2 linked regions of the Homo sapiens genome follow. The protein of the gene in region 2 interacts with the protein of the main gene of each other region in a pairwise test. Each region holds a gene or a part of one and is shown on either strand. Other genes may lie near its edges.

Evidence for each region. The genes of interacting proteins can lie anywhere in the genome.
Region 1: the proteins of PWP2 (region 2) and TOM1L1 interact in a two-hybrid assay, tested with the Homo sapiens proteins (one large-scale study listed by BioGRID and IntAct).

Annotation. Positions count from the first base shown.
Region 1 is NC_000017.11:54,949,332-54,953,017, reverse strand, and holds part of TOM1L1 (TOM1-like protein 1), read right to left. Parts: intron 3,501-3,686; coding exon 3,395-3,500; intron 2,974-3,394; coding exon 2,892-2,973; intron 1,117-2,891; exon of another isoform or gene 1-1,116. UniProt on the Homo sapiens protein: Probable adapter protein involved in signaling pathways. Interacts with the SH2 and SH3 domains of various signaling proteins when it is phosphorylated. May promote FYN activation, possibly by disrupting intramolecular SH3-dependent interactions.
Region 2 is NC_000021.9:44,105,987-44,110,378, forward strand, and holds the start of PWP2 (periodic tryptophan protein 2 homolog), read left to right. Parts: upstream 1-1,412; 5' UTR 1,413-1,430; coding exon 1,431-1,448; intron 1,449-2,997; coding exon 2,998-3,110; intron 3,111-4,392. UniProt on the Homo sapiens protein: Part of the small subunit (SSU) processome, first precursor of the small eukaryotic ribosomal subunit.

The DNA.
Region 1 (3,686 bases), on a different chromosome or scaffold from region 2:
GTATATAAGGGGTGTGTCTCATAAAGGAAATAAAAGATTCTTGGAGCCTCTGGTCCATGAAATAGTATCTAAAACTTTCACTCATTCTTTCTTCTGTTCCCCAAACATCCCATTCTCCTTTTGGGAAGGGACCTTCTGACTAAGTTTGGAGCCACAATTTCTCTAAATCAGGACAGAATAGAGGTGTTCTGAGCCCATGGCACTGCCATGCTGGCCCTAGTTCCTGGGGAAGTTCCAGACTTGGGGCCTCATATGACTCCTTGGCTAATGCGGTACTAGATAATTGTATAGCATTAGACTGCCTCTTAGCAGAACAGGGAGGAGGAGAGTGTGCAGTTATTAATTCCTCTTGCTGTACCTGAATAAATACCTCAGGGGAAATAGGAAGTTAACATTAGGAAGGTCCATGCCCAAGCCTCTTGGTTCCACACTTTTAATCAGCAGCCATATTTTTTTTTTTTTTTTTTTTTTGAGACAGTCTCGCTCTGTTGCCCAGGTTGGAATGCAGTGGGGCACGATCTGGGCTCACTGCAACCTCTACCTCCTGGGTTCTAGCGATTTTTCTGCCTCACCTTCCTGAGTAGCTGGGACTACAGGTGCGCACCACCACACCTGCCTAATTTTTGTATTTTTAGTAGAGACGGGGTTTCACCATGTTGCCCAGGCTGATCTTGAATTCAGGGTGATCTGCGCGCCTTGGCCTCGCAAAGTGCTGGGATTACAGGGGTGAGCCACCACATCAGGCCTAATAGCCATACTTCTAATTCTGTTTGAGAAGTTCTCAAATTAGCAATACCAAGTGTTACTTGGTTTCTTCCCCTAATGAGGCCACTAATTTTATTGCTCTTACTACTGTTGTTTGGTCCCTGCATCTTTAACCTCTTCGTAAAATTTGTATCTTCCAGATTAGAAAAATTTCAACTGTAGGTGCCTTTGCAACCTATCCTGGGAGACCCTAAAACATATTTAGTTTTAGTGCCTAGAGATTTTCACTCCTCTAACATCTCTGGATACAGTGTCCCTGGTCAACATGAAGAAGTTACAGAAGAACGCTTTCTGATCCTGGCCCCTAAAGAATTTACTTGTGCTAAGTAATAAAATTCCTATTGATCAAAACCTGTGTCCTTGTGGAGAGTCAGATATCTGTTACTATCCAGGTGAATGAACCCTGGGTTTTTTGGGTGGTAACAGGACCTGAGGGGCTGCAGAGCCTACCTGTGTAAAGGAGATAGCTACTACTCAACCCCAGCCCATAGCTAGCACGTAAAAATTCAGGCTTCGTGTTGACAGAGTATCTAAATGATCTAGAAGTCCAGAATTTTTATTTTCAAATATCCGAGTTTTCAGCTGTTGGCAACTGTGGTCTTATGATACATACTGGTTTTTGTCTAAGGTTCCTGGCTCACAACTCCCATAGCCCTTGTTACAGTCTTTTGTTATAATGTTGGGTGTGTCAGGCCTTAGGAGCCAGCCTCTGGAAGCAGAATCTCTCGACCTTCTCTAGTCCTCCTTTCACCTGCCCCAAGGCACCACTCTAATCGCCCACCTTTGTCACTGTGGGTCATAAGAGCCTCCCTAGAGAGGGTCCTGCCCTATACCCTGGGGGAAGGAATGCTGACATCAAGAAGCTTCCATTAAAAACCCTAGAGGACTGGGTTGGGGTTGGGTCAGGTCAGTTTCTGGATAGCTGAACACGTGGAGGTACCTGGAGGGTGGGACTCCAGGGAGGGCACGGAAACTCCATGGCCTTTTCCGCATGCCTCGCCCTGTGCATCTCTTCATCTGCATCCTTTGCAATGTCCTTTATAATAAACCAGTAAATATAAGTATTTCCCTGAGTTCTGTGAGCTGCTCCAGCAAACTAATCAAACCCAAAGAAGCAGTCATGGGAACCCCAACTTGAAGCCAGTCAGTCCTAAGTTTAGAGGCCCAGGCTTGTGACTGGTGTCTGGGAAGGTAGGTGTCGGGGTGGTGGGGACTGAGCTCTCAACCTGTGGGGTCTGACACTATCTCCAGGTAGATGGTGTTGGAATTGAATCAGAGGACACCCAGCTGGTGTCCATTGTAGAATTCATTGCTTGCCTGCTGATGGGGAGAAATCCTCACATATTTGGGGGCCACAGAAGTCTCTGCATTCATTGTTATATTAGAGTGAGAGCTGAGGAAAAACATGGTTGAGAGTTTCCCAAACCAGCAATTAATTTTTTAAATGCACATTTTAAATTCTGCACAGGTCAAAAACAAACAACTGCAAGCAAGATAGAGCCTGTAGGCTGTCAGTTTCTGAACAATGATTTCCAATAAACGTGCTTTAATAATTTTTAACAATTTGGGGGTAACCTTCAGTCACTCAAAGTATATTAAAGTTCTTATGACCTTACCATTCCATTAATATTTATATATCTTGACCAATATGAAATCATAAAAGAATGTTGCTTTAAGGATTTTAAGTAAAAAGTAATTGTACTAATGCTTTAGAAGACTAAAAACAAGTTCTAATATAAGATTTTTTTGGATCAGTTCATAAAGAGCAGCTAAAATATTCCATCAATGTGGCATAAACTTATGTCACCAATCAGTGACTAGTACCCTTCTCAAGCTAAAGAGAACATGACTTTCTGCCAAGGGATCTATGAGGAGTCCATTAAGCAGGTTAGTTCCAGTTATTTCTTAACATGCAACCCCAGCATTTTTATTTTTTAGTCACAAGGCCGGAACGATAAGACCATTAAGAGTAACAGCTGCCATAAAACCTCATAAGGCATTTTTAATAAGGCCATCAATTTCTGCCAAGACCTAAACAAAGTTAAATGTATAACCAAGCCCTGTTAGCTCTGCTATCAAAGGGAACCAAGACAAAAAATAAATTAATCATTTTGTAAATGACTTACTCTGTAGTGACAGCAGGAGCTAAGGGATCAAACTCCATTACCTCGTAGTAATTAGGTGGCTGGAGATCACTTTTTGTCATCGCTTTGGGCAAAAAAAGAGACCAGTAAACATATTGTGCTTTTTGAGGAGTACACGCAATTGATATTCTTTTTATAATTTAGACTTCAAATATTAGATCCTAATAAACACAACCAAAACAGACTGGTGTCCCAATGCTACTCCCAAGTTCAACAAATCTGTATGTATCAAAAAGGTTTCCAAACCTCAACTAAAGATTCATTTACCTTAGCATTCAAAACACAATACTCAGTTTAACACAAGCATTTTTACAGTCTCTTATAAGTCAGTCATAATGGTATCTGCCCTGAATTTGTTTCATTAGCTTAAAAATACAAAAGAGCATCTCTAATTTCTCCTATTTTCAGTTACCAATGAATCTCTGGCAGACTCATATATTCTCATAAGTTTCCTTATTTGATGCGAATAATAAGGTCCCATGTACCTGGATGATTGCTGGGCAAAGGTGGCAGACTCTGGTTTGATGGTGCTGCTGCAATGGTTTGTAGACTAACTGGCTGTAGAAACACTGAATTTGAATGTTCCAGAAACTGAAGAAAGCATAACACATGTTCATATAAACGTTCTACATTAAGCTTTTCTTTTATTACTGAGACTCCTACACTTGCAAGTACATTGTTCCAAGAACTTTGAACTGGACAAGAATAAGTTGTTTTTAATTATTACTTTAGTTTTTTTAGGTAATAATCACTTACGAGATTTACTACTTTTCTGCT
Region 2 (4,392 bases):
ACAACAGTTCCATTGTCAGCACAGCCTAGGAAGGTCAGATCCTGTATTAATTACTCTTAGTGGAGATGCCAGATATCCCATACAGAATTAGCAGAGAAAATACACACAGGCTTCTATTCAAATTTTCTTTAGTGCTTAAAATTAAGTTTTAAAATGAAATCAGACACTGCAGGTTTGTATATAAAATGAAAAGCTATACTACTTTTTACAAAAGGGCAAACTGGGCTGATGTAAATGTTTTACTTTCAACTGTGTTCTTTAAAATAAATCCTACCTGGTTTTTAAATTTTATTTTTCATGAAAATGCTCCTTTCTCTACATTTATTCATCCTATATACATCAGGCTGTAAGACCCCCCCCAGTCATCATTAATACAATGTGTTGGGATTCTGTGACTGGAAAAGGTGACAAGTTGGTGACTTTGACACTGCAGGTATTCCATTTTCATGGTTTACTATGAAAAGTCATTTTTCATATTATGTAATATATTGTTAGATTAAAACCATTGTATTAAGACTTTAAAATGTAAGCATTGTAATTCTGAAAATACACATTTTAAGAAGAAACTATTTTGCACTGGATCTTTTGCTGCGACATGGTGTGACAACAGTATGTAATGTGAAGATTTTATTGTTTTATCTCCCTAGTCCTTGTTCCTGACTCTTGGGCATAGATTATTTGCCTTTTGGGAAACATTCGGATTATTTTTTTTTTTTTTTTTTTTTTTTTCTCTGAGACAGTCATGCTCTGTTGCCTAGGCTGGAGTGCAATGGCGCGATCTGGGCTCACTGCAGCCTCCGCCTCCCAGGTTCAAGCCATTCTCCTGCCTCAGCCTCCCGAGTAGCTGGGACTACAGGCATGCGCCTCATTTTTATACTTTAGTAGAGATGATGTTTCACCATGTTGGCCAGGCTAGTCTCGAACTGCTGACCTCAGGTCATCCACCCGCCTCAGTCTCCCAGGCGTGAGCCACCGCACCGGCCAGCATTCGGGACTTTATTCATAATTCCTTACCCAACAGTTCACAAGAACGAAGACATTTGGGTGTGCAGCGCTCTCATGTTGTGGACGCTGCTGTGCCAGGCTGGGCGTCCGTGCGGAGCGCGCCCAGCGCTGGAGCGCGCCTAAGAGGCGCCCTGCAGTGTGGCTCCGGGGTGTGGGCGGGGCCCGGAGAAGGCCCCCGCCTTGGGAGGGGTTGGGCCTCGCGTTCAAACTCCGCCTCGGGGCGGGGCGAGGGCGACGCAGCTCCTCCTGCCTCCTGGGCCGCTGCGGACGGTGGTGCGCGACCCCGTCCCGGGCGCGCGCGCTGTGGGCGGTGCACGCCGTCGCTTCCCGGAAGTGCGTGCTGTGGGCGGTGCCGCGCGGACCCCCGGGAAGTGTCTCTGTGGGCGGCCGCCGGGTTGAGCTGCGGCACACGTGCGACGGCCGTGATGAAGTTCGCTTACCGGGTGAGCGCGGGCGGCGGGCGGTCTGTTGGATCGGCGCGGCTCTTCCGGTGGACGGCGCCTGAGCTGGCTCCGGGCGGGCTGGGGGCGCGTGGTCTGCTTTTGCGGCGTCTGGCCGCGTGGGGGTCGCCGGCTGTCTGCGCGCCCGTGGCCTCGGGGACGCGGGGCTGTGGTGGGGCTCCTGGGAGAGCTGGGACGGAGGCGCCGACGGCTTCTCGGAGGGAACAGGGACATTTGTCGGGGTCCCGGGATATTTTTAACCTGAGTATGGCCCAACCTAAAGGCTGGAGTTGGTGCAGTCGGGGAGGGCACAGCACCCTCGGGAGGGATGAGGAGGTGGGACGGGGCGGGGACGCGGGCGCGCGCAGGCGGGGTGAGAACAGCAGGGACCCGGGGCCCGGGACTGGTCCCTAACGAGCGAGCGTCCAGGTGAGCGGAAGGGCGGGGAACCCAGGTGTGAGCTCTGTTTCCCGAGGCCGGAGGGAATTCCTGAGGCGGACGCCCTCAGCTTTGAGAGCCAGGGAAGACTTGTCCCAGATGTGAAGTGCAGGAGGCGGGTGAGACAGGTAATAAGAGGGGGCCGTGGAGCCGGCCTGGGGGTCTCTGAAGCGTTTGCTACAGCTGGCCGGTTATGGGGACGCCTGTGTTTCCCACAGTGGCCCTGACCGTTGCGCTTCCAGGGTTGCACGGGCCGCCTGCTGCTGAGCCCACCGTGTACTACACTTGTCCTGTCCGAAACTGGGCATGGTACTGGCCCCTCAGAGTGCTGCTCCTGTGTCCCCTGTGCTGGTGGAGCCACCGCTGTGTGCCCAGCACCAAACCAGAAACCATATCCACGTCCTCACAGGCCAGGACTTCATCCGCTCCACATTCCTACTGCAAGGTGGCAAAAAATGTGCCTTGGAGCCTGCCTGGCCGCTTAAAGTCCTTCTGCTGACCAAGCTCCTCCCTGAGGTCCTGAGGGCGCTGCCCACTCACAGCTTCAGGGCCTGGCTGGTGCCTTCCCATTTAGATTCCAGCTCAGGTGACCCTTCCAGGTGCCTCTCCGTGACCACCGTCTAAAGTAGCCCCTGCTCCCACACTTCTCATCCCCCTCCTGCTAGAGAGAGAATATAAGGTGTGCGTGTCTGTGCGCATGGCAGTCTCCAGTGAACGCTCGTGCTCGTGAGTTAGTAAATAGGATGCTGGCTTACCACACTTCTGGAAGCCCTGAGTTCTAAGCACTTTTGGGGTGCTGTTCCATTGTTGCAGCTTTTTTCTTGGTGAAGTGTGGGCTCCATGCCCCTCTTCACCTGGCAGACGCCTCCTGTCTTGGGAGGCTTCCTCAGTGCTCACAGGGGCATCTTACCCATCTCTGTGGGAGCTTGGGGCCGCCCGGGCTCCTCTGGTCTCCTGAGGATCAGGCTCACTTCTTCCTCTCTTACCCAGGAAAGGTGAACGGGCCCCCAAGGTGGGGTTCTCTATGCCATCTCTCTGCCCAGATGCCTCACTTAGTGCTTTTCTGGGAGTCGACTGTTTTCTTTGTGTTAAGACAATTTTGTTTTCTTCACAGTTTTCAAATTTGCTGGGTACGGTGTACCGGCGTGGGAACCTAAATTTTACCTGCGATGGAAATTCAGTTATCAGTCCCGTGGGCAATAGAGTCACTGTATTTGACCTTAAAAAGTAAGTATGTGAAAGTGGTATTCATAATAGTGATACTGATTACTATTATCACCATTTTTTAAGTAACATATGAAAACTGATAGTGTCTTCTGTGCCTTCCTTTTAATGGTGCACCCGTTAATTAAGGGAGCCCAGGACAGGACTACAGGACAGACTAGGGTCAGCAGATCAGTTGTGGAAATTGGCAGCCAGACCCAGTTCTTCGTTGTAGTGCCTTAGCCAGGCCCCATAAAGTGGTGTGTCACTTGGCTCCGTTCTGTGGGAAGGGACCCTGTCCCTGTGCTGTGAAGGGTGGGTGGGGGAAAAGGTGTAGCTCAGGGTTAGCCCTTCCCCCATCAGGGAAGGCCCCTAAGGGCTGAAAGGCCAGGGCTGCTGGGGGAGTTGAAGGTACCTTGGACCCCTGCTCGGGAGCCCTGCTGCCACTGGGCCTCACCAGTCGGACGGGCAGGCCCAAAGCTTCCAGCTCTGCAGCCGGAGGTCAGTTTTATTCGCTGGGGTTTAGCGGTTTCTTCCTGTGTGCTGTTGCACTTTGCTTCACTTTGTTGCACTCTGGCTCTGTGCGGATGCTGTTTTACCACGAAGCGAAGGTGTGTGGAAACACTGCTTGGAGAAAGTTGGTCGGTGCCATTTTTCCAGCAGTGGGGGCTCACTTCATGTCTCTGTGTCACATTTTGGTAATTTTGTGATATTTCAAAGTTTATTATACCTGTGAGGGTGATTTGTGATCATCTTTGCTGTTGCTATCGTGATTGTTCTGGGGTGCCGTGATCCGTGCCCATGTAAGACAGCGAGCTTAATCGGTAAGCACTGTGTGTGCTGTGCCTGCTCCACCGACCGGCTGTTCCCCACCCCCCCACGTCTCTCTTCCTCTACTTGGGTCTCCCTATTCCCTGACACAAACAATGCTGAAATTAGGCCAGTTAATAATGGCCTACAGTGGCCACTACGTGTTCATGTGAAAGGAAGAGTCACACAACTCTCACCTGAAATCAGAAGCTAGAAGGGACTCAGCTTAGTGAGGAAGGCATGTCAAAAGCTGAAATAGGCCAAAAGCCAGGTCTCTGCCACCAAACAGGCAAGTTGTGAATGCAAAGAAAAAGCTTTTGAAGGAAATTAAAAGTGCTACTCCAGTGAACACACAAATTACAAGAAAGCCAAAATAGCCTTATTGCAGATACGGATAAAAGTTTGAGTGATCCAGATAGAAGATCAAACCAGCCACAACATTCCTTTAAGCAAGTCAAAGCCTAATGCACAGCAAGGCCCTACCTGTCCTCTGTTC